Regions from separate parts of the Homo sapiens genome. Here regions 1, 2, 3, 5 and 6 are each linked to region 4. The links come from fine-mapping of genetic effects on plasma protein levels. A gene starts in region 4. Each other region holds a variant in brackets. All regions are shown on one strand. Distances are between the middles of the regions. Region 1 overlaps PFKFB4 (6-phosphofructo-2-kinase/fructose-2,6-biphosphatase 4). Region 2 overlaps DOCK3 (dedicator of cytokinesis 3). Region 3 has its middle 29 kb from the start of PLXNB1. Region 4 holds the start of HYAL1 (hyaluronidase 1). Region 5 overlaps KLHL18 (kelch like family member 18). Region 6 overlaps IP6K1 (inositol hexakisphosphate kinase 1).

What was found. PIP is the posterior inclusion probability: the model's chance that the variant is causal. The UK Biobank Pharma Proteomics Project read protein levels with antibody pairs (Olink). The fine-mapping took linkage between variants from a reference panel, not from the people measured, so its PIPs are less certain.
Region 1: its variant is fine-mapped to the plasma level of the HYAL1 protein (UK Biobank, PIP above 0.99).
Region 2: its variant is fine-mapped to the plasma level of the HYAL1 protein (UK Biobank, PIP above 0.99).
Region 3: its variant is fine-mapped to the plasma level of the HYAL1 protein (UK Biobank, PIP above 0.99).
Region 5: its variant is fine-mapped to the plasma level of the HYAL1 protein (UK Biobank, PIP above 0.99).
Region 6: its variant is fine-mapped to the plasma level of the HYAL1 protein (UK Biobank, PIP above 0.99).

The regions. Positions count from the first base shown.
Region 1 is chr3:48,532,488-48,536,592 of GRCh38, forward strand. PFKFB4 (6-phosphofructo-2-kinase/fructose-2,6-biphosphatase 4) reads right to left here. Exons shown (of 14, transcript NM_004567.4): 8 at 3,769-3,976; 9 at 3,025-3,171. Among named protein-coding and RNA genes, the nearest start is that of MIR6823, 15 kb to the right of the region's middle. The variant G/C (reference allele first, on the strand shown) is at 1,976.
Region 2 is chr3:51,250,455-51,254,559 of GRCh38, forward strand. The region is part of intron 22 of DOCK3 (dedicator of cytokinesis 3); the gene reads left to right. Among named protein-coding and RNA genes, the nearest start is that of MANF, 130 kb to the right of the region's middle. The variant G/A (reference allele first, on the strand shown) is at 2,022.
Region 3 is chr3:48,399,405-48,403,499 of GRCh38, forward strand. No RefSeq gene overlaps it. Among named protein-coding and RNA genes, the nearest start is that of PLXNB1, 29 kb to the right of the region's middle. The variant C/T (reference allele first, on the strand shown) is at 2,112.
Region 4 is chr3:50,302,890-50,306,977 of GRCh38, forward strand. It overlaps HYAL1 (hyaluronidase 1), which reads right to left and starts at 685. Exons shown (of 4, transcript NM_033159.4): 1 at 577-685; 2 at 1-91. The coding sequence starts at 67. RefSeq lists enhancers at 169-1,103, 921-1,090.
Region 5 is chr3:47,324,291-47,328,395 of GRCh38, forward strand. All of the region lies in intron 3 of KLHL18 (kelch like family member 18), which reads left to right. Among named protein-coding and RNA genes, the nearest start is that of KLHL18, 43 kb to the left of the region's middle. The variant C/A (reference allele first, on the strand shown) is at 2,005.
Region 6 is chr3:49,737,147-49,741,146 of GRCh38, forward strand. It overlaps IP6K1 (inositol hexakisphosphate kinase 1), which reads right to left. Exons shown (of 6, transcript NM_153273.4): 3 at 1,066-1,276. Among named protein-coding and RNA genes, the nearest start is that of GMPPB, 15 kb to the left of the region's middle. The variant G/A (reference allele first, on the strand shown) is at 2,239.

The sequences.
Region 1 (4,105 bases), 1.8 Mb before region 4:
TCCATTGGCAGATGAATGGATACACGAAATGTGGTATACAATAGAATCTTATTCTGCCTTAGAAAGGAAGAAAATTCTTAAGGCTGGGTGTGATGGTTCACATTTGTAATCCTAGCACTTTGAGAGGCCAAAGTGGTAGAATCGCTTGAGGCTAGGAGTTTGAGACCAACCTGGGCAATATAGTGAGCCTCCCTTCTCTACAAAAAATAAAAAAATTATCTAGGCATGGTGGTGTGCACTTGTTAGTCCCAGCTACTAGGGAGGCAAGAGAATCGTTGAGTCTAGGAGTTTGAGGCTGCAGTGATTTCCACATTGCACTGTAGCCTGGGTGACAGAGTGAGATGCTGTCTTAAAAAATAAACAGGAAGGAAACTCTTGCACAAGCTACAACATGGATGAACCTTGAGGATATTATGCTAACTAAAGTAACCAGTTACAAAAAGACAAATACTATATGATTTCACTTATATGAGGTATATAAAGTAGTCAAAGTCATAAAGACAGAAAGTGGTTGCCAGGGGCTGGGAGTAGCAAATAGAGTTATTGTTTTTCTTTTTAAAATTTTTTTAGAGATGGGGTCTCACTATGTTGTCCAGGCTGGAGTGCAAGGGCCAATCGTGAATGAAATCATAGCACACCACAGCCTCAAACTCATGGGCTCAAGCAATCCTCCCACCTCAGCCTCCCAAGTACCTGGGACTATAGGTGTGAGCCAGCACATCTGGCTTGAGTTATTGTTCAGTGGGTACAGAGTTTCTGTTTTACAAGATTAAAAGAGTTCTGGAGATGCATGGTGGTGAGAGTTGCATAACAATGTAAATGTACTTCATACTCCTGAAACGTACACTTCAAAACAGCTATGATGGTAAATTTTATGTTATGCATATTTTACCACAGTAAAAAAAAATGGAAAAACAAAAGCAGGGGTGGTAATATTCAAATTAGTCAAAGTATATATCCACAGAAAAAGCTTTTCATATTGAAATGGGAACCACCCATAATAAAGACCAAGCCATGATGGAGCAACTGGTACCAGATTTGCTCTGGCCCCAACAAAAACAACTATTATTAAAAAAGGACAAATTGGCAGGGCGCTGTGGCTGACACCTGTAATCCTAGAACTTTGGGAGGTTGAGGTGGGTGGATTGCCTGAGGTCAGGAATTCAAGACCAGCCTGGCCAACGTGGTGAAACCCTGTCTCTACTAAAAATACAAAAATTAGTTGGTGTGGTGGCGGGTGCCTATAATCCCAGCTACTCTGGAGGCTGAGGCACAAGAATCGCTTGAACCCGGGAGACGAAGGTGGCAGTGAGCCGAGATCGTGCCATTGCACTCCAGCCTGGACAACAGGAGCAAACCTCCGTCTCAAAAAAATAAATAAATAAAGGGACAAATCAAACAACTGTTTTTAGACACGAGACTAGGCAGGACTGTGATCCTTGAGAGAAGGGAAGCAAGCTGAGGGGAGGAGGCAGCAGCTTACTGCCCAGAGGCACTTCCTGGACTGCAGAGCCAAGCATAATGAAGAAATAATGGAAGATTCAAAAAAGGAACAAAATGAAATTCCTGGAGCTTCAAAACACCACATCTGATATGAAAAGTTCACTGGATGGGTTTAATAAAAATGCAGAAGTAAAGATAAGTGAATTTGAAGACATAGCAGTAGAAACTATCTAAATTAAAGCTCGGAAGGAAAAAAAGACAGAGAAGAAATGAACAGAAGAAATTAAAAAACCAGAAGTTCAGTGACCTGTGGGATGATACCAAACAGTCTAACACACACAGAGTGGGAGTCCAGGATGGGAGAAGGGGTGGCAGAAAATACCTTTGAAGAAATGATGGCCAACAATTCTTCACATTTTATATTTAGAAACCCAGAAATCCGAGAATCTCAATAAACCCCAAGGATGATAAACATAAAGAAAACCATACTGAGATACATCATAATCAAATTGCTAAAAATCAGCAATAAAGA[G/C]AAAATATTCCAGCCTAGGCAACATCATGAGACTCCGTCTCTACAAAAATTAGAAAAGATTAGCCTGGCATGGTGGCAAGTGCCTGTAGTCCCAGCTAGTCAGGAGGTTGAGATGGGAGGATGGCTTGAGCCCAGGAAGTTGAGGCTACAGTGAGCTATGATTGCACCACAGCACTCCAGCTTGGGTGACAGAGTAAGATCTTGTCTTGAAAAAAAAAAAAAAAAGAAGAAAAGAAAATATTAAAGGCAGTCAGAGAAAAAGGAGGTAACATTATATCCAGAAGAGCAAAGATGAGAATGACAACAGACTTCTCTTAGAAACAATGCAACCCAGAAGTCAGCAGAAGAGCATTTTTTTTTTTTTGAGACAGAACATCACTCTGTTGCCCAGGCTGGAGTGCAGTGGCACAATCTCAGCCCACTGCAACCTCTGTCTCCTGGGTTCAAGCAATTCTCCTGCCTCAGCCTCCCGAGTACGTGGGATTACAGGTACCCACCACCATGCCTGGCTAATTTTTGTATTTTCAGTAGAGATGGGGTTTCACCATGTTGGCCAGGCTGGACTCAAACTCCTGACTTGAGGTGATCCGCCCGCCTCAGCCTCCCAAAGTGCTGGGATTACAAGGGTGAGCCACCGCACCTGGCGAGAACAGCATCTTTAAAGAGACAAAGGCCGTGCTGGTTCACCTCATTTGTGTCTCCAGATCCCTGGGAGGTTGGCTATGGCTGACTGCAGCTACCAAGCTCCCGTGGCCGCTGATTTCTTGTTGAGCTAGACCATGAGGAACCCTAGCAGGAGGCCACAGGGAGGGAGGAGAGTGAGGTTGAGGTGTCAACTCCCAGGCTCACTCCTGAGAATGGTCTAGGGCTCACCCAAGGTCCCATCCTGTTAGGCTGCCTTTTCCTCTCTGCTCCCAGCCCCTAGGTTCCTGTATCCTTTCTCTCTCCTCTCCTTTGCCCAAGGGGAGCAATGGTCACTGTTGTTACAATATGATGCAGCAGCCCTGCGGTATCTGGGAGGTAGACAGGGAGGGAGGGACGGTAACTACCGCATCGATCTCGTTGAGGACCTTCCACTGTTCATAGGGCACACCCAGTGCCTCAGCCGTCTGGATTGTCCTCTTCATCTGGCTTGTCCAGACCTTCAGATCCTTGATATTTTGGTCACTGATGAACTGGGCTAGACTCTTGGCAAACTGAAATACATCATAAGCAAACTCAGACCCACAGGTCTTGGGCTGCCCTTAAAGCATCCCATAGCCGCAGGGTCCATGAGATCACCCTCGCCTTGAACACTCACTACAGGTTTGGTAAAAAGCATGAACTAACTTGTCGATGACACACATGCTGACACACAAGAACACAAGTGCTGTTCCTGTGCACCCTCCCAGACCCTGAGCACAGCAGCACAGTTACAGCTGAGACTCATCAGGGCCACTGCCTCCCCACAACCAGGTGCCCTGTGCTACGTGACCACTGAGGTCTCCCCTGGACTGTGGCACAGCTATCTGCTACACTGTATGGACTCAGGTCGCTCTAAGGGTGGCATGCCTCTGACAAAAGGGGCTCAGTGAGTGACAGCTCACATGGAAACCAGAGATCCAGGCATTTGCCTGTTGCTTGATGACCTTCCCTACATGATGGGAAGATTCTAGGTTGAATGAAGGTCATTCACCTCGACTGCACATTAAAAGAATGGGAGCCTAGCCCCAGCGCACTCACACATGCATATACCCAGCCACGCAGGGTACAAATGCAGGCCCGTGTGCGCACGCAGGGACACATGCACTGACCTCCCTGCCCCGAGGGGACAGTCCTGGGTCCCCGCCAATCCGGCCCTTGAGGTTGAGCTCGCTCTCCCCGTGCCGGCAGAGGTAGATGGAGCGGGGGGTCACGTGGATGTTCATGAGGTAATATACGATGCGGCTCTGGATGTGGTCAGCCACACGGTTCACCACGTAGCTCTGGCCCACATCCATGATCTTGATATAGGACAGGTCCCTGTCCAGAGAGAAAGTAGAAAGAGGCCTGTGAGCGTGGCCAGGGTTCTCACAGAGCACATCTGGCTAGCCACGGAATCTAGCTGCGAGGCCTTGCACTTCCAACCACCAGAGATTACAACCCTCAGGA
Region 2 (4,105 bases), 950 kb after region 4:
CTGAAAATACATAAATTAACCGGGCATGGTGGCATGCACCTGTAATCCCAACTACTCACGAGGCTGTGGCTCAAGAATTGCTTGAACCTGGGAGGCGGAGGTTGCAGTGAACCAAGATTGTGCCGCTGCACTCCAGCCTGGGTGACAGAGCAAAACTCCATCTCAAGAGAAAACAAACAAACAAACAAACTCGATGAGTACTATGAAGGAAATAAACAAGATTATGGAACAGACTGGCTGGAAAGGAGGGTTTACTTCAGATCAAGGATTTGGGAAAGCTTCTCTGAGGAGGTGATCTCTGAGCTGAAGTCAGTGTTAACAGTTAGGGAGTGAGCACTCCAGACTGAGGAAACAGAATATTTAAAAGCCTAGATGGGAAAGGGCTTGGGTTTTGTTTTTGCTTTTGTTTTTGTTTTTTTATTATTGTTATTATACTTAAAGTTCTAGGATACATGTGCACAACGTGCAGGTTTGTTACATATGTATCTATATGCCATGTTGATGTGCTGCTCCCATTAACTCGTCATTTACATTAGGTGTATCTCCTAATGCTATCCCTCCCCCATCCCCCAACCCCACAACAGGCTCCAGTGTGTGATGTTCCCCACCCTGTGTCCAAGTGTTCTCATTGTTCAGTTCTCACCTATGAGTGAGAACATGTGGTGTTTGGTTTTCTGTCCTTGCGATAGTTTGCTCAGAATGATGGATTCCAGCTTCATCCATATCCCTACAAAGGACATGAACTCATCCTTTTTATGGCTGCATAGTATTCCATGGTGTATATGTGCCACATTTTCTTAATCCAGTCTATCATTGATGGACATTTGGGTTGGTTCCAAGTCTTTGCTATTGTGAATAGTGCCGCAGTAAACATACATGTGCATGTGTCTTTATAGCAGCATGATTTATAATCCTTTGGGTATATACCCAGTAATGGGATGGCTTGGGCAAATGGTATTTCTAGTTCTAGATCCTTGAGGAATCACCACACTGTCTTTTCCACAATGGTTGGACTAATTTACACTTCCACCAACAGTGTAAAAGCGTTCCTATTTCTCCACATCCTCTCCAGCACCTGTTGTTTCCTGACTTTTTAATGATCGCCATTCCAACTAGTGTGAGATGGTATCTCATTGTGGTTTTGATTTGCATTTCTCTAATGACCCGTGATGATGAGCTTTTTTTCATATGTTGGTTGGCTGCATAAATGTCTTCTTTTGAGAAGTGTCTGTTCATATCCTTCGCCCACTTTTTGATGGTTTTTTCTTGTAAATTTGTTTAAGTTCTTTGTAGATTTTGGATATTAGCCGTTTGTCAGATGGATAGATGGCAAAAATTTTCTCCTATTCTATAGCTTGCCTGTTCACTGTGATGATAGCTTCTTTTGCTGTGCAGAAGCTCTTCAGTTTAATTAGATCCCATTGGTCAATTTTGGCTTTTGTTGCCATTACTTTTGGTGTTTTAGACATGAAGTGCTTGCCCATGTCTATGTCCTGAATGGTATTGCCTAGGTTTTCTTCTAGGGTTTTTATGGTTTTAGGTCTAACATTTAAGTCTTTAATCCATCATGAATTAATTTTTGTATAAGGTGTAAGGAAGGGATCCAGTTTCAGCTTTCTACATATGGCTAGCCAGTTTTCCCAGCACCATTTATTAAATAGGGAATCCTTTCCCCATTTCTTGTTTTTGTCAGGTTTGTCAAAGATCAGATGGTTGTAGATGTGTGGTATTATTTCTCAGGGCTCTATTCTGTTCCATTGGTCTGTATCTCTGTTTTGGTACCAGTACCATGCTGTTTTGGTTACTGTAGCCTTGTAGTATAGTTTGAAGTCAGGTAGCGTGATGCCTCCAGCTTTGTTCTTTTGGCTTAGAATTGTCTTGGCAATGCAGGCTCTTTCTTGGTTCCATATGAACTTTAAAGTAGTTTTTTCCAATTCTGTGAACAAAGTCATTGGTGGCTTTATGGGGATGGCATTGAATCTATAAATTACCTTGGGCAGTATGGCCATTTTCACAGTATT[G/A]ATTCTTCCTATCCATGAGCATGGAATGTTCTTCCATTTATTTGTGTCCTCTTTTATTTTGTTGAGCAGTGGTTTGTAGTTCTCCTTGAAGAGGTCCTTCGCATCCCTTGCTAGTTGGATTCCTAAGTATTTTATTCTCTTTGAAGCAGTTGTGAATGGGAGTTCATTCCTGATTTGGCTCTCTGTTTGTCTGTTATTGGTGTATAGGAATGCTTGTGATTTTTGCACATTGATTTTGTATCCTGAGACTTTGCTGAAGTTGCTTATCAGCTTAAGTAGATTTTGGGCTGAGACAGTGGGGTTTTCCAAATATACAATCATGTCGTCTGCAAACAGGGACAATTTGACTTCCTCTTTTCCTAATTCAATACCCTTTATTTCTTTCTCTTGCCTGACTGCCCTGGCCAGAACTTTCAACACTATGTTGAATAGGAGTGGTGAGAGAGGGCATCCCTGTCTTGTGCCAGTTTTCAAAGGGAATGCTTCTGGGTTTTGCCCATTCAGTATGATATTGGCTGTGGGTTTGTCATAAGTAGCTCGTATTATTTTGAGATACGTCCCATCAATACCTAGTTTGTTGAGAGTTTTTAGCGTGAAGGGCTGTTGAATTTTGTCAAAGGACTTTTCTGCATCTATTGAGATAATCATGTGGTTTTTTGTCTTTGGTTCTGTTTATATAATGGATTATGTTTATTGGTTTGCATATGTTGAACCAGCCTTGCATCAAAGGATGAAGCCCACTTGATCTTGGCAGATAAGCTTTTTGATGTGCTACTGGATTCAGTTTGCTAGTATTTTACTGAGGATTTTCGCATCAATGTTCATCAGGGATATTGGTCTAAAATTCTCTTTTTTTTGTTGTGTCTCTGCCAGGCTTTGGTATCAGGATGATGCTGGTCTCATAAAACGAGTTAGGGAGGATTCCCTCTTTTTCTATTGATTGGAATAGTTTCAGAAGGAGTGGTACCAGCTCCTCTTTATACCTCTGGTAGAATTCGGCTGTGAATACGTCTAGTCCTGGACTTTTTTTGGTTGGTAGGCTATTAAATACTACCTCATTTACAGAGCCTATTATTGGTCTATTCAGGGATTCAACTTCTTCCTGGTTTAGTCTTGGGGGGTTGTGTGTGTCCAGGAATTTATCCATTTCTTCTAGATTTTCTAGTTTATTTGCGTAGAGGTGCTTCTGGTATTCTCTGATGGTAGTCTGTAGTTCGTGGGATCGATGGCGATATCACCTTTGTCATTTTTTATTGCATCTATTTGATTCTTCTCTCTTTTCTTCTTTATTAGTCTTGCTAGTGGTCCATCAATTTTGTTGATCTTTTCAAAAAACCAGCTCCTGGATTCATTGATTTTTTGAAGGGTTTTTTGTGTCTCTATCTCCTTCAGTTCTGCTCTTAGTTATTTCTTGCCTTCTGCTAGCTTTTTTAGAGAAGCAAGTGTTTGCTCTTGCTTCTCTAGTTCTTTTAATTGTGATGTTCGGGTGTCAATTTTAGATCTTTCCTGTTTTCTCCTGTGGGCATTTGGTGCTATAAATTTCCCTCTGCACACTGCTTTAAATGTGTCTCAGAGGTTCTGTTCTGTTGTATCTTTGTTCTCATTGGTTTCGAAGAACATCTTTATTTCTGCCTTCATTTTGTTATGTACCCAGTAGTCATTCAGGAGTAGGTTGTTCAGTTTCCATGTAGTTGAGCAGTTTTGAGTGACTTTCTTAGTCGTGAGTTCTAGTTTGATTGCACTGTGGTCTGAGAGACAGTTTGTTAAAATTTCTGTTCTTTTACATTTGCTGAGGAGTGCTTTACTTCCAACTATGTGGTCAATTTTGGAATAAGTGCAATGTGGTGCTGAGAAGAATGTATATTCTTTTGATTTGGGGTGGAGAGTTCTATAAATGTCTATTAGGTCCACTTGGTGCAGAGCTGAGTTCAGTTCCTGGATATCCTTGTTAACTTTATGTCTCGTTGATCTGTCTAATGTTGACAGTGGGGTGTTAAAGTCTCCCATTGTTATTGTGTGGGAGTCTAAGTCTCTTTGTAGGTCTCTAAGGACTTGCTTTATGAATCTGGGTGCTCCTGCATTGG
Region 3 (4,095 bases), 1.9 Mb before region 4:
GGGAGGAACAAGAGGCCAGGGTAATTATTCCCCCAGCATCCTCCCTCTGAAGCTTCCACCTTTAGCCACAGCCCCACTGGTCCTGATGACTACTCTGTCCCTACCCCTAGAGCCCAGGACTGGTAACAGCTGTGCTTCACCATCCCTTATTGGCTTCCCAGAGCCTGCAGCTCTGTAAGTAGTCCCCTCATTAAACTCTCTTCCAGCTGCATCTTTCCTGGTACATGCTGTCAGTTTCCTGCCAGGAGCTGGACTGATCCAGCACTTGATAAATGTTTCTTCATTAAATCCTGCCAGGTGCCAGCTTGGGATCCAACCCCATGACACAGAGTGGCTCCTGCCACATGCCAGAATGTCCCTGCCCTTCTCTCCAGAGGCCCAGTCAGTGAGAGGAGGAGGAACTAGAATCCAGGTCTCCTGCCTCCCAGAGCAAGGCTCCTGTCACTCCACTCCCTGGGGCTTCTTGGGCCTGAGATCTTGAGGCAAGTCTGGTGGTGGAGGAGGTCTTGAGCAAGACAGGCTTGAATCCTCTCTTCCTGGTGGCACCCATTCACTAGGGCAGCAGGTGCCCCAGCAGCACCAACTCACCAGCATGGGTGGAGGGGCCAGGTTAGCAGGTTCCCAGGCACCTGCAGCGTCAGCCAGCATGCAGCTCCTGGCTTCCCACGGGCGCCACTGACTCAGCAGTCAGAGGCTGTGGGTAACACTGCTGCCCCCTTTGCCAGCTTATAGGTGACAGAGGCTTCTATAGTCACTCACCGCTGGATAACTACTCCCCTTTTTGTCCTTCACACACTTTCATAATCAATCCCTTATATTTAAATTCCTTCCATTGGAAACACCTAGAGTGGTTTCTGGTTTTTTGTTGTTGTTGTTGTTGTTTTCTTTTTGAGACAGAGTCTCATTCTGCTGCTCAGGCTGGAGTGTGGTGGCATAATCTCAGCTCAGGCTGGAGTGTGGTGGCATAATCTCAGCTCAGGCTGGAGTGTGGTGGCATAATCTCAGCTCACTGAAACCTCTGCCTCCCAGGTTCAAGTGATTTTCCTTCCTCAGCCTCCCCAGTAGCTGGGATCACAGGTGCACACAATCACACCCGGCTAATTTCTGTATTTTCAGTAGAGATGGGGTTTCACCATGTTGATCAGGGTGGTCTCGAACTCCTGACCTCAAGTGATCCACCCACCTTGGCCTCCCAAAGTGCTGGGATTACAGGTGTGAGCCACTGTGCCCGGCTGTTTTCTTGACTAGTCACTCACTGTTATCTCAACTATGTCCTAAGACATAGCTCACCCTAAAACCAGAATTCACGTTAAAGACAGGGTAAGATTACTCACTAAGCTCCAGCACTACTGAATTCCACTGTTGTGATTTCTCTCTCTCTTTTTTTGAAGAGACAGGGTCTCACTGTCACCCAGTCTGGAGTGGAGTGGCATAATCTTTCACTGCAGCCTCAAACTCCTGGAGTCCAGCAATCCTCCCACCTCAACCTCTTAAATAGCTGAGACTACAGATGTGTGCTACCATGCCCAGCTAATTTTTAAACAGTTTTCGTAAAGATGGGGTCTGGCTATCTTGCCCAGGCTTGCAATTTATAGAGCTCCAGACACCCTCATTGGTAGCTGCTTCTGATAAATTCCACACTATGGCCAGAAGATGGCAGCAAACCACCAGCTTCAGCCACTTACCTGTGGCCCAGGACACCGGACCAGGTTTCCAAAATCTGAGCTTCACATTCCTAGACCTCCAGAGGTTCTCTTCATGGCCACCTGGACAACTGGCAAACCATTCTGTTTCCTTACACGTGCACATATCATCCAGATAACTGAAACTCTTATCAATAAAACCCCAACATCACAACCAGGGCATAAATTCTCTTTCAAACATCATGGTGATATCCTTATCTTAGATTTTTGGTAAACATTTGGAATTGGATAAACCATCATCCTTAATTAAGACAGAGAACACTTTTTTTTTTTTTTTTTTGAGATGGAGTTTTGCTCGTCACCCAGGCTGGAGTGCAGTGGCGCGATCTCGACTCAGTGCAACCTCCGCCTCCCGGGTTCAAGCGATTCTCCTGTCTCAGCCTCCTGAGTAGCTGGGATGAGAGGCGC[C/T]CGCCACCACACCTGGCTAATTTTTTGTATTTTTAGAAGAGACGGGGTTTTGCCATGTTGGGCAGGCTGGTCTCAAACTCCTGACCTCAGATGATCCGCCTGCCTCGGCCTCCCAAAGTGTTGGGATTACAGGGGTGAGCCACTGCGCCTGGCCGACAGAACACTTTTAAAGAGAGATCCATAAAACATCGCCAGTCAGCTGACCTAGGTAGTTTGGGGTGTATTTGTTCTTCAATGTGGCATCCTTAGGGAACCTGGTGGAGGAAACACATGCATCAGCAGCCATTGGTGCCAAGCAGAACACAGCTAGGTTCCCTGTATCCCCCAGCACCACCCAGAGTCACCTGTTGGCACTGGCCAGTGGGATCCAGGTCCTGACCATTTGGAAGGTTTCAGGTGGCTTCTAAGAATTCCAACATTCATCAGCATAAATTCAGCTGTTATCTTAATTAGCACGATTATTTCAGTATCAGAAAATTAATAAAAATATAGAACTCCTGGGTCATGTAACCATTTGGACAATTATTCCAACTTTTAAGTTGGTGAAAACGCTTTTTAATAAAGCACATCACTCCATAAAACGCCTTAAGGAGCCCCGGGTGGTAATGAGAAACAAAGGCCCTTTGTATGCTAACAGGTTTGTGAAAAATGTAATAATGAGGGCACACTTTCGTTGCAGTCTTAATAAAAATTAGGAAAAGATTGATCAAACTGAATTACAAATGTTCTATGCTGAAATTGTGGTCATGACCCAAGTTAAGCGATCACAAATTCTTGCTGGTGTTGGAATCTCCATTCTTGGTCATGGTTTGGAGTGAAGACAGAATTTCCTATCTTCTTGTGCCAGGTTTTTCTTCTCTATGTCTGTTATTATAACAATGTTCTGTGGCGGCTGAGCCATGACTCAGTGAGTGACTCAAAGCACGTTCAGTACTCACCCCTCCCGCGGGCACGTGCCCAGGCTTGCAGGCACATGGCCCCCCTCTCCCGGGAGCCTTCACCTACCCCTAAAACCTGCAGGGGCCTGAACCTGGAACAGAGAGGCCTCTGGAACAGAGGCATGGCTCTGTCGAGGTCTGTGGTGCTGACCAAGGCTGCTTCCCTCTGTGTCTGCTTGAAGTCCACCCTCAAGTGGATTTCCCATCCACCCTGCTCCCAGAGATGGTCAAGATGGAGACCCATTCCATGGTCTCCAACGGGAAAAGTCAGGACCATTCTGGGTGGCTATGAAAACCTGGCCAGAGCATCCAAGCTCACATGCTCCCAAATGATGGCACCTGGCTGCTGACCTGACTGTGGTCCCCACATCCGGCAGAAATGGGAAAGAAGGGACAATGGAGCCACAGCGAAGAATAGCAGCTATGACTACCCCCGGCACAGACAAGACCAACATGGCTCCTTAGGGACAAGGACTTTGTGGATTGTAGGGGCAACCCTACAGTGGATGGCTTTATTTAGGGCCAAAAAAAGGCAGGGGATAGGAGTCCTCCTGGAATTCTATCAGTCTGTCTCTCTCTAAACACTCAATGAAGACCTCGAGGGGAGGTTGTGGTCTCTGTGCCAGACGAGAGGAAATGCTAAGGGTCACTGGGTTATGGAGGATAAGCAGAGGGCCAAAGGGATGATCCCTCTGAAGGCCTCAAGGCTGAAGGGCCTTCCTCTCATCTGCCAGGCAGAGCTGCCACCCTATCTCTTCTGTTCCATGGGGGGCTGGCCTTCTGCTAAGGCCGAGGGTGGTCTCAAGTCAAGAGGAGTATCAACCCCCTGCCCTACAGACCCAACTAGCAACATGAGACCAGATAAGACAGTCTCCAAGCTCACCTCCAGGTACAAATCAGGAAGAACCATATAAGGCGGCCTTCATGGAGGCAGACAGTTTAGGAGCCGGCCCTAGGATGCCCTGATTTGGAAGGCAACACAGAAACCCTAAGTCCAGGAACAGGACCATGGAAAATGGCCCTCGAGACCCCCTCTGCCTAGAGTT
Region 4 (4,088 bases):
TAAAGCCTTGGGCCATATCGAGTAAGGTCAGGAAGAGGGCGCAGATGGGAAGCAGGTGGGCTGCCATGGCACGGGACTGGTCGAGGACAACCTGGCCAGGGGAGGCAGAGCTGAGAACAGGTTGCAAAGTCTCCGATTCCCCCACTGCTCAGGGCTGGGGGGCTGAGCCCTTGCGCATTAATCCACCGCTGCTCTGGTTTCTGTTAAACATTGACCTGCAGGGCTCCAGGAGGGCAGGGGAGACGCATGGAGGGGAGCATGGCCACTGGAGGGCACATCCGAGTTGCCTCTCAGACCAGGCCTCTGCCATCTCCCACAGGACTTGCTCTAGCCTAAGCTCGCCCACCCCTGCTTCCCCATGAGCCACTGAGGCCATGACATATGTTCTGGGAAGAGTGGCTGACAGCCAGGCCCTCAGCCCCCAGGCTGACCCGACCAAGGGGGGGAGGCCTTCCTGTCTCTTCCACCAGAAATCCTGGCAGCCACTGGAGGAAGATCCAATGGCCTCAGTGACCAAGGACAGGTCAACCCAGCCCTCCTGTACACCCGCCAGTCTGCCCGCTCGTCCCTGCTGACCTTGGGGCTGAAGGGCCTTATCCTCCAAATTTCCTGACCCCAGGATGGGGGCCTAAGCAGGGCCTGGCCAGATTCCACCCCAGCTGCACCAGAGACTCCTGGAGGAAGGAGCCGCTGCTGGAAATTCTGAGCTTTTGTAGGGGGTCACCCCACCCAGGCCAGGGGCGGGCCAAGGGGCGGGCCTTGGATTAGGAGGCCAGGCCAGCCAGGCATCAGGGCTACCTCTGAATCCCTGGCAAAGGGATCTTGGTTGGGGGTGGGGCTGGGCCAACAGTGGCCCCTCCCACGCTGTCAGCACTAGGGCAGGGCTTTGTGGCCTTACCTAGGCTGGAGGAGGTGGGCAGGGGCAGACCCTGCTGGGCAGGCCTGTTTGTGACACTGGAGACCGGGTTCTTTCGTGTCTTGTGCTCAGGGAGTGTTCTTTGTCCACGTGGCTGCATCTGACATTGATGGGCCCTAGGCACTTTACTTTCGTGGATCTTTTCCTCCTTAAAAAAAATATTTTAAAATATGGCCAGGCATGCCAGGTGCGGAGGCTCACGCCTATAATCCTAGCACTTTGGGAAGCCGAGGTGGCAGATCACGAGGTCAGGAGATCGAGACCATCCCGGCTAACATGGTGAAACCCCTTCTCTACTAAAAATACAAAAAATTAGCCGGGCGTGGTGGCAGGCGCCTGTAATCCCAGCTACTCGGGAGGCTGAGGCAGGACAATCCCTTGAACCCGGGAGGCAGAGGTTGCAGTGAGCCAAGACTGCTCCACTGTGCTACTATACTCCAGCCTGGGTGACAGAGAGCGACTCCATCTCAAAAAAAAAAAAAAAAAAAAAAATATATATATATATATATATATATATATATATATATATATATGGCTATAGTCTTAGCACTTTGGGAGGCTGAGGTGGGAGAATTGCTTGAGCCCAGGAGTTCGAGACCAGCCTAGGCAATGTAGCAAGACCCCATCTCTACAAAAAAATTAAAAATTAGCTGGGCATGGTGGTATGTACCTGTAGTCCCAGCTACTTGGGACACTGAGGCAGGAGGAGTGCTTGAGCCCAGGAGGTCATGTCTGGGTTACACTATTATATATTAATTATTAATATATTTACATTTATATTCTTCTTCTGATTAAAAAAACATTTTGTGGGCCCCTGAAAGTACTGTGGCCCTAGGCCTTGGGTCTATTGTGCTTAGTGGATAAGTCATCCCTGTTGTAGGGACCTGTTTCTGAAAGGCACTGTGTTCATGAAGTCAGGGCTGTGTCATCACCCTTTGTATATGTGCTGGGTTAGTGACTGTGTCTTTGTGAAGCCCCATTTAGTGACCATCTGAGCCTCTGCACAAATTCCAGTGGCAAGTAGGTGTGAGTGTGGAACCCAGTGCCTGGGACTGGGTGTGTGTGAGCCCTGCTGTCTTGTGAGCATGAGATCCTGTGTTTGTGTGACCATGCATATGAGCTGTCAGTGAGCACATGCTTGTTCATTCATTTGTGGTTTCACTTGTTCAATATGTGAAAGGAAAATATCTTGGGCCCCTTCAAGCTGGGAACCGCTCAGGACAAATCTGCCTCCCATTCTATTCAAGTCATCCTTTTGCTTACAGACATAGATGCATATTATGATTGCCTCCATTGCCTCTTTTGGAAAGACTACCAGAAACTCAAAAGAATGCAACCATCTGTCTGTCACCTGCCTGTGACCTGGAAGCCCCCAGTGGGGGGCCGTGCTTTGAGCTGTCTCCACCTCTCTGGACAGAGCTTATGTACTTCTGTTTTTTTTTTATTTTTATTTTTTGAGACGGAGTCTCGCTCTGTCGCCCAGGCTGGAGTGCAGTGGTGCGATCTCAGCTCACTGCAAGCTCTGCCCCCCGGGTTCATGCCATTCTCCTGCCTCAGCCTCCCGAGTAGCTGGGACTACAGGCGCCCGCCACCACGCCTGGCTAATTTTTTGTATTTTTAGTAGAGACGAGGTTTCACCGTGTTAGCCAGGATGGTCTCGATCTCCTGACCTTGTGATCTGCCTGCCTCAGCTTCCCAAAGTGCTGGGATTACAGGTGTGAGCCACCGCGCCTGGCCTAATTTTTTTTTAGATGAAGTCTCACTCTGTCGCCCAGGCTGGAGTGCAATGGCATGATCTCGGCTCACTGCAACCTCTGGCTCCCGGGTTCAAGCGATTCTCCTGCCTCAGCCTCCAGAGTAGCTGGGACTACAGGCGCGTGCCACCACACCCAGCTAATTTTTATATGTTTAGTAGAGACAGGGTTTCACCATATTGGCCAGGCTGGTCTTGAACTCCTGACCTTGTGATCTGCCCACCTTGGCCTCCCAAAGTGCTGGGATTACAGGCTTGAGCCACCACGCTTGGCTAAGGTACTTCTTACGTATTGATAGATGTCTCATATCTCCCTAAAATGTATAAAACCAAGCTGTGCCCGGAACACCTTGGGCACATGTCATCAGGACTTCCTGAGGCTGTGTCTTGGATGCATCTTCAACCTCAGCAAAATAAACTTTTTAAATTAACTGAGAGCTGTCTCAGATTTTCTGGGTTCACATTTGGTAACTATGGATGGATTCTGTGTGGAGATGTCCTTGACTTTTGACTAATTGCCTATCTGTGCTTGGTACCAGCAGGAGCTAACTTTATGGCTCAAACCAATAGGACAATTTGCTGAGGTCTGGGAGCACCCCCTCCAGAGAATCCTTGATTTCTCAATTGGTTGAGATCTAAAGTTTATTTTGCTGTACAACTCTTTTTTTTTTTTTTTTTTTTTTTGGAGTTTTACTTGCTCCCAAAAGGAAAGCAAGTTTTTCTGCTTCCATGACGATGGAAGGCAGGTAACTCCTTTATGGAGTTTGAGCTCGCTTCCAACAGGGAAAATTAGTTTTTTTTTCCTGCTTCTGGGATGGTAGAGAGCAGTCTACAGCCTGAGACCCATCACTAGGTAAGAAACTGGCTTGGGATTCTGCCTTGCAATTTCCTTTAAATGACTAAAGTTAGCATTTAACAACCAGCTGGTGTTAACTTCTGCTTACACTTACAGCACTCAGAAATCATATACTTTGTGTGATCATTGTTACTTTAGCAGCATTTTGTTCTAGCTGAAATATGGTAATAAGATTAAAAAAATTTTTTTTGGCTGGGAGTGGTGGCTCACACCCGTAATCCCAACACTTTGGGAGGCCGAGGTGGGCGGGTCACCTGAGGTCGGGAGTTTGAGACCAGCTTGGCCAACATGGTGAAACCTATCTCTACTAAAAATACAAAAATTAGCCCGGCATGGTGGTGGGTGCCTGTAATCCCAGCTACTCAGGAGGCTGAGGCAGGAGAATTGCTTCAACCTGGGAGGTGGGGGTTGCAGTGAGCCGAGATCATGCTACTGTTACTCCAGCCTCAGTGACAGAGCAAGACTCCATCTCAACAACAACAACAACAACAACAAAAACACAAAAATTATCCAGGCATGGTGGCCCACACCTATAATCCCAGCTATTCAGGAGGCTGAGGCAG
Region 5 (4,105 bases), 3.0 Mb before region 4:
TTTCTTTCTTTTTTTTTTTTTTTTTTTTTTTTTTCTGTAAGGTAGAGCCCCAGGCTTGGAGGCCTTGGGCTTTACCACTGCTGAAATGACTCTGTGGCTAAGTAGGATTAATCCTGGAAAGGATTGTTGACGAGCCTCGAATCTTCACCAATGGACAACAGCTCCACCTAGGGGGCTTTTGAGATTGTCACTGTCAACACTGGATCCAGGCTATGTTGTAAAGTACTGTTATCTAAAAGTTGCTTAGAAAAGTGATTTTTAGGCCAGATGAGGTGGTTCATGCTGTAATCCCAGCATTTTGGGAGGCCAAGGCAGGAGGATTGCTTGAGGTTAGGATTTCCAGACCAGCCTGTATGGCAGAGCAAGACCCTGTCTCTACAAAAAAAAAATTTTTTTAATTAGTCAAGTGCAGTGGCTCACATCTATAGTCCCAGCTACTGGAGAGGCTAAGGTGGGAGAACTGCTTGAACCAGGAGCCCAAGGCTGCAGTGAGTTACAATCACCTTACTCCAGCTTGGGCAACTGAGCAAGACTCTGTCTCTAAAAACTAAAAAGAAAAAAGAAAAGTCATTTTTAGGCCAGTGCAGGTTTGCATGCACCAGTAGCATTTTAGGAATAAGTACTTACGCATAAACCTGATGTTTTGAGCCTATCTTTGACATTTTTTCATTCAGCCCTTCAGGACCCTTTCTGAGACCTAAACCTATACCTCTCCTGTTTCCTGCCACAGACTCCAGAGCCATGGCCTGCTTTCTGTTTTCTCACCAGTAGTTCCTATTATTGTCTCTGTTCCTTGGAATGATTCTCCCTGAGCCTCGCTACAGAATGTGATGGTGTCTCCCAGCTCCCCACTTCGTATGTGCCCTTGAAGGTGCATCATTTTCTTTTTTTTCTTTTTTTTTTTAAGGCGGAGCCTTGCTCTGTGAGACAGAGTGTCACTCTTGTTGCCCAGGCTGGAGTGCAGTGGCGCGATCTTGGCTCACTGCAAGCTCCGCCTCCTGTGTTCACGCCATTCTCTCGCCTCAGCCTCCCAAGTAGCTGGGACTACAGGCGCCTGCCACCACGCCTGGCTAATTTTTTGTACTTTTAGTAGAGACGGGGTTTCACCATGTTAGCCAGGATGGTCTCGATCTCCTGACCTTGTGATCCGCCCGCCTCAGCCTCCCAAAGTGCTGGGATTACAGGCGTGAGCCACCACGCCCAGCCGAGGGTGCATCATTTTCAAGATTTGATTGCCAGCGACTTGAGGAAAACCATTCTGAGCACCAGTGGAAAAGATATGTGACAGCACAGAGAAGCCACAATGCCATCAGAGTTCTTAAAGCCACAGTTCCTGAGGCTGCTCAGTCTATTACATCTTCAGCCCGCTGCTTTTTTTCCCCCTGAGGCTGGGGTTGACTTTTTCTGGTGGCCCTATTTCCGGCCTTCAAATGTATGGGCCTCCTTGCTTTTAGGCAAGCACTGGAGCTGTGTATTTTCTTGCTTTTTTTTTTTTTTGAGATGGAGTCTCACTCTGTCACCCAGGCTGGAGTGCAGTTTCGTGATCTCGGCTCACTGCCACCTCTGCCTCCCGAGCTCAAGCATTCTCCTGCCTCAGCCTCCGGAGTAGCAGGATTACAGGTGCCTGCCACCATGCCCGGCTAATTTTTGTATTTTTATTTATTTATTTATTTTTGAGACAGAGTCTTGCTCTGTCGCCCAGGCAGGAATGCAGTGGCATGATCTCAGCTCACTGCAACCACCACCTCCCAGGTTCAAGCGATTCTCCTGCCTCAGCCTCCGGAGCAGCTGGGGCTACAGGCGTGTGCCACCACACCCAGCTAATTTTTGTATTTTTAGTAGAGATGGGGTTTCACCATGTTGGCCAGGCTGGTCTTGATCTCCTGACCTCAAGTGATCTGCCCACCTCGGCCTCCCAAAGTGCTGAGATTACAGGTGTGAGTCACCACACCCAGCCTTGGAGCTGTGTATTTTCTGAAATTCTCTCAGAGGTAGATTGGTACA[C/A]CAAATGCGTCAATGAACCACGTCAGTAACCTGTTTAATTCAAGTCACCGCTTCCTGCCTCTGATAAAGCATTATGTCTTATGCTGTCTTCTTGCTTCCAAAGTCAAGCTGTGTCAGCAAGGAAGAAGGTTGTGATGTGGCTAATGAAAGACGTGGGTCTCCATCAACCCTGTAGCTGTAGGTTTATTTTCCCTCATATCTCCCTCCTCCTCTTGCATGGGCCCCTTTCCTGTGTGGCCGCTCTCCTTCCTTTTCCCCCACTAATTGCCTCACAAACAGGCTCCCCACGTCCCCCATCCTCTTGGATGTAAAAGCCCAGTTCAGTTAAGAAGGTGTGTTTTGGCTGGGTACGTTGACTCACGCCTGTAATCCCAACACTCTGGGAGGCCGAGGCAGGGTGGATCACCTGAGGTCGGGAGTTCGAGACCAGCCTGGCCAACATAGTGAAACCCCATCTCTACTAAAAATACAAAAAACTTAGCTGGCTATGGTTGCAGGCACCTGTAATCCCAGCTACTCGGGAGGGTGAGGCAGGAGAATCGCTTGAACCTGGGAAGTGGAGGTTGCGGTGAGCCGAGATCGTGCCATTGCACTCCAGCCTGGGCAACAAGAGCGAAGCTACATCTCAAAAAAAAAGAAAAAAAAAAAGGAAGGTGTGTTTTGGCCGGGCGTGGTGGCTCACGCTTGTTATCCTGGCACTTTTGGAGGCCGAGGCAGGCAGATCGCCTGAGGTCAGTAGTTGGAGACCAGCCTGGCCAACATGGTGAAATGCCATCTCTACTAAAAATACAAAAATGAGCCGGCCGTGGTGGCGCACGCCTGTAATCCCAGCTACTTGGGAGGCTGAGCCAGGAGAATCACTTGAACCCAGGAGGCAGAGGTTGCAGTGAGCTGAGATCATGCCGCTGCACTCTAGCCTCGGCAACACCAGGAGACTCCGTCTCAAAAAAAACAAAAGGGAAAAAAAAAGGTGTGTTTTGTGCTCAGTATTATGCCAAGCTAATCAAAGACACCCAAAAATAAGGTACGAGAATCCTAACCTGAGAAGGAGAGTTTGGAAATGAATGCCAATGGCTACGTTGATCATTGGCTCCCATATCCTTGGACTTGATCCAGCTTCTGCCCCGTGGCATTTTGAATCCTCCTCTCAGGTTGATGTCAAAGTGTTAGGAAATAGTGAAGCACATGCTGTAGAGGCCCAGGGAAGGTTTATCTTTATATCTGCCTTATATTTGTAAAGTGCTTTAACAAGTCTCATTCAATCACTATAAGTGCTTTAGGAGAAAGGCATTTGACAGATGACTGAGCTGACATTCTGACCTTCAGCGCTGTATTCCTCAGTGGCCATGAACTTTGCCTACATCTTGCTCTCTGCTTATGTTTCTGTGCTCTTCTAAATTCACATCAGTTTCCAAAGCAATGGACAGAGCAAGCTCAGGCTGGAATGAAATAACTATGTAGAATTTTGACTAGTCATAAAGCCAGGCTCCAAGGTACCTTGCCCATTCATTCAGTCCTTGATGGGTCAACTGCTAGGGGACAATAGTGAATATTGCTAAATAAATATAACCCTGTGCCTAAAACCTTAACGTCGGGGAAAAGACATAAACCTTTCTAATGAAGAAAAGCATGCCCGGCCAATTTTTAATCTGATCAATACCATCCCTACAGAGAATCAGTCATGGAGCCAAATAAGAATCCCCCAGGGTCTGCTGCTGTCACCAAGATTTTAGAATCGCACTGGGCTCGTTTGGAATTTTCTTAGATGCAACAGTAGTAAGAAAAACAAGCTGGGCACAGTGGCTCATGCCTGTAATCCCAGCACTTTGGGAGGCCAAGGCAGGAGGATTGCTCGAGCCTAGGAGTTTGAGACCAGTCTGGGCAACATAGGGAGATGCTTTCTCTACCAAAAAACACTTTTTTTTTTTTTTTTTAATTAGCTAGGTGTGTGGTTTCAGCTACTTGGCAGGTTGAGGTAGGAGGATCACTTGAGCTCAAGAGGTCAAGGCTATCATGAGCCATAATTGCACCACTACACTACAGCCTAGGTGACAGAATAAGACCTTGTCTCAAAAAACAAAAACAACCATAATAAAAAATT
Region 6 (4,000 bases), 570 kb before region 4:
AGGATCCTCCCACCTCAGCCTCCTGAAGCATTAGGATTACAAGCGTGAGCCACAGCACTCAGCCTGGTTTAACTTTTTGAAGAACTGCTAAATTGTTTCCCAAGTGGCTGCACCACTTTACCTTCCTACCAGCAGTGTAGGAGGGTTCCATTTCTTCACATCTTGTCAACACTTTTATTGTCTGTCCTTTTGATTATACCCATCCTAGTGGGAGTTCATATTAATTCTTGCATGAAATTATCAAGACACATAATTTGAGGCTGGTACAGTGGCTCATGCCTATAATCCCAGCACTTTGGGAAGCCAAGGCAGGCGAATCGCCTGAGGTCAGGAGTTCGAGACCAGCCTAGCCAACATGGTGACACAACATCTCCACTAAAAATACAAAAATTAGCTGGGTGTGGTGGTGCACGCCTGTAATCCCAGCTACTTGGGAGGCAGAGGCAGGAGAATTGCTTGAACCCAGGAGGGAGAGGTTGCAGTGACGCAAGATGGCACCACTGCATTCCAGCCTAACAGCAAGACTCCATCTCAAAACAAACAAAAAAACATAATTTGAACTTACAAGAAAAATCAATTTCCAACACAACGGAAACTAAATTTTAGTTGCAGGGAAAGCGTTAATGACTGATATGATTCTCAGAGGTCTGACACAAAAACCATTAGGGAACTCCTGGTTGGACTCATAGCCCTTGGGCTTGGACATCCTGCAGGTCAGAAAGCATTTGGAGCCTCGCTACGAACTAATGTATTTCAACCTTCTGTCCTGTGGGTGGCAAGACATAATGAAAAGCCAGAGAACCTTTTGTCACCAGCACAGGGTGTCCCTGCTTCCAAACGGCTGAGAGAGCTTCACTTCCTCTCTCAACCAGCTACAGCTATACCCAGAAAGAGGCACCACTGGGGTGATGTGACACAGAGAAGAGGCTACACCTGTGTGGGTATCCCAAGAACACCAGTCATCTTATCCAACCTTGACTGTGAGCCCTGCTTCCCCATGATGTGTCAGGACTATGGAGACGTCTTGAGTGCTTGTACCAGCAGGACGAAACATGTACCTCTTACCTCTCAGAGGTCTCAAGGGACAGGCTGGCTTTCTCCTCCTTGTGGTCACTGCCACTGCCTGACCGGTGCAGGCTCCGGCGGGAGTGTTTGCGCCGAGGTTGCTCCCGTTCTGTTGTGTCATCCTGTTCCACAGTCTCACTTTCCACATAAGGATAGGCCACTAAGTTGATGTAACCATCACTGTCCCCCTCAAAACAGACAGATACCACGCCTGTTAAAAAAAGGGCAGTTGGTAAACAAATGTCAACACAGGCCGAGTCTATGCAGCACAGACTGTTGGCACTCACTTTCCCACACAGCATGAAGACATCACCTGCCCTGAACCAACTACAGATCAATATCAGAACAACAGCCAGCAGACAGTAACTTCCAGAAAATGGATGACCGTCCATCCCCAAGCTAAATCTGATGCTTACCTTTGTTCCTGGATAAGTCTATATTTCCCCTTCTCTTATCTGGCCCTCTCACTTTCAATTACTGATTTTTTGTACCATTCAAAAGAACTGTGTTCGCTAGGTGACACCCACACCTGGCATCACTTAACCCTCTAGTTACTTAAGTGCTTTATGCTGCCATTTCCTGTGTGTGTCCTCCTTTAGATCTAGTTTCCTTCTGCCTGACAGTGTCAGCCAAAGGGACATCAACACTTCTCCCTCCAAGACGGTCCAAAAAAATCTGTGTTCTGCCCACACTGAGCATCAGGCTATCCCAGCCTCACTACACAGAACTTCCACCCCTGGCATCTCGAAGATAAAACATCCTTCTGTTTGCCGTGCTGTATCCGTAATAGTTTTTTGTGCCCATTTTAATCAAATGGGTTGTTTGTAGTGTCTTCTGGATCTTAGTGAGTTAAAACACAAATAAGACCCCTCTCAAGTGTTCTTAATACAATTTAAAAATACATATATCCAGAAACTTGAGGAGGAGGTTTTGAAGGGAAAAAAAAGTAACTTGGTCTCACTTCCACATCCCACCTTTTGTCTGTCAGCTACATTTCTGCTTTTATACTCTCAGATGTACACAGTTGGCTCTATAATCTGAAAATCAGTGAGAAGCATTTATGGTTTATTTTTTGTAGAGACAGGATCTCCCTATGTTTTGTCAATTTCTTTTATGTTGTAGAATAATTATTGGCTTAAAGTTCTTTTTTTTTTTTTTTTGAGACAGAGTCTC[G/A]CTCTGTCGCCCAGGCTGGAGTGCAGTGGCGTGATCTCGGCTCACTGCAAGCTCCGCCTCCCAGGTTCAAGCGATTCTCTTGCCTCAGCCTCCTGAGTAGCTGGGACTACAGGCACCCGCCACCATGCCTGGCTAATTTTTTTGTATTTTTAGTAGAGACGGGGTTTCACCATGTTAGCCAGGATGGTCTCATCTCCTGACCTCGTGATCCACCCGTCTCGGCCTCCCAAAGTGCTGGGATTACAGGCGTGAGCCACCAGGCCCGGCCTAAAGTTCTTTATAATATTCTTCTTCTTCTTAAGAGACAGGGTCCCATTGGAGTGCAGTGGTGCCATCATAGCTCACTACAACCTCGAACTCCTGGACTCAAGTGATCCTCCTGCCTCAGCCTCTCAAGTAGCTGGGACCTCACCTGAGATCAGGAGTTCCACACCAGCCTGGCCAACATGTCGAAACCCCATCTCTACTAAAAATACAACAGTTATCCAGACATGGTGGTGCGTGCCTATAATCCCAGCTACTCAGGAGGCTGAGGCAGGAGAATCACTTGAAGCCGGGAGACGGAGGTTGCAGTGAGCCAAGATCAGCCTGGGCAACAGAGCAACACTCCATCTCAAAAAAATAAAATAAAAATAAAATAAAATTGTGGTGTTTGGGCCAGGTTCAGTGGCTCACACTGTAATTCCAGCTCTTTGGGAGGCCAAGGCAGGACTGCTTGAACACAGGAGTTCAAGACCAGCCTGAGCAACACAGCAAGACCCTGTCTCTATAAAATATAAAAATAAAAATAAGTTGTGGTGTTCAGTCAATAGATCGATCGATAGAAACATAAAATTTGCAATTCTTTTTTTTTTTTTTTTTTTTTTGGTAGCGACAAGGCTTGCTATGTTGCCCAGTCTGGTCTGGAACTCCGGGCCTCAAACAATCCTCTTGCCTTCGCTTCCCAAAGTGCTAGGATTACTGGTGTGAGCCACCATGCCCAGCCATTTAATCATTTTTAAAGGTACAATTCAGTGGGCATTAAGTACATTGACAATACTGAATAACCACCACCATTATCTATTTCCAAAATGTTTTTCATCACCTGAAACAAAAATGCTGTACCCATTAAGCAGTAACTCCCCATTTTCCCTTCCTCCTAGCCCCAGTAACCAAATCTACTTTCTATCTCTACAGATTTGCCTATTATGCATATTTCATATAAGTGAAATCATACAATGTTTGTTCTTTTGTGTCTGGCTTAGTTCACTTAGCATAGTGTTTGCAAGGTTCATCTGTGTCACAGCATATATCAGAACTTCATTCTTTTTTATGGCTCAATAGTATTCCATTGTAAGTATATATCACATCTGTTATGTATTATCTATATTGATGGACACTTGGGTTGTTTCCACCTTTTAGCTATTATGAATGATGCTGTTGTGAACACTGGCTTACAACAATCCATTTGAATCCCTGTTTTTTCTTTTTTCTTTTTTTTTTTTTTTGAGATGGAATCTTGCTCTGTCGCCCAGGCTGGAGTGCAGTGGTGCAACCTCAGCTCACTGCAATCTCCGCCTCCCGAGGTGATTCTCCTGCCTCAGCCTCCTGAGGAGCGGGGATTACAGGTGCCTGCCACCACGCTCGGCTACTTTTTGTATTTTTTAGCAGAGACAGGGTTTTGCCATGTTAGCCAGGCTGGTCTTGAACTACTGACCTCAGGTGATCTGCCCGCCTCCCAAAGTACTAGGATTACAGGCATGAGCCACTGCACCTGGCCACA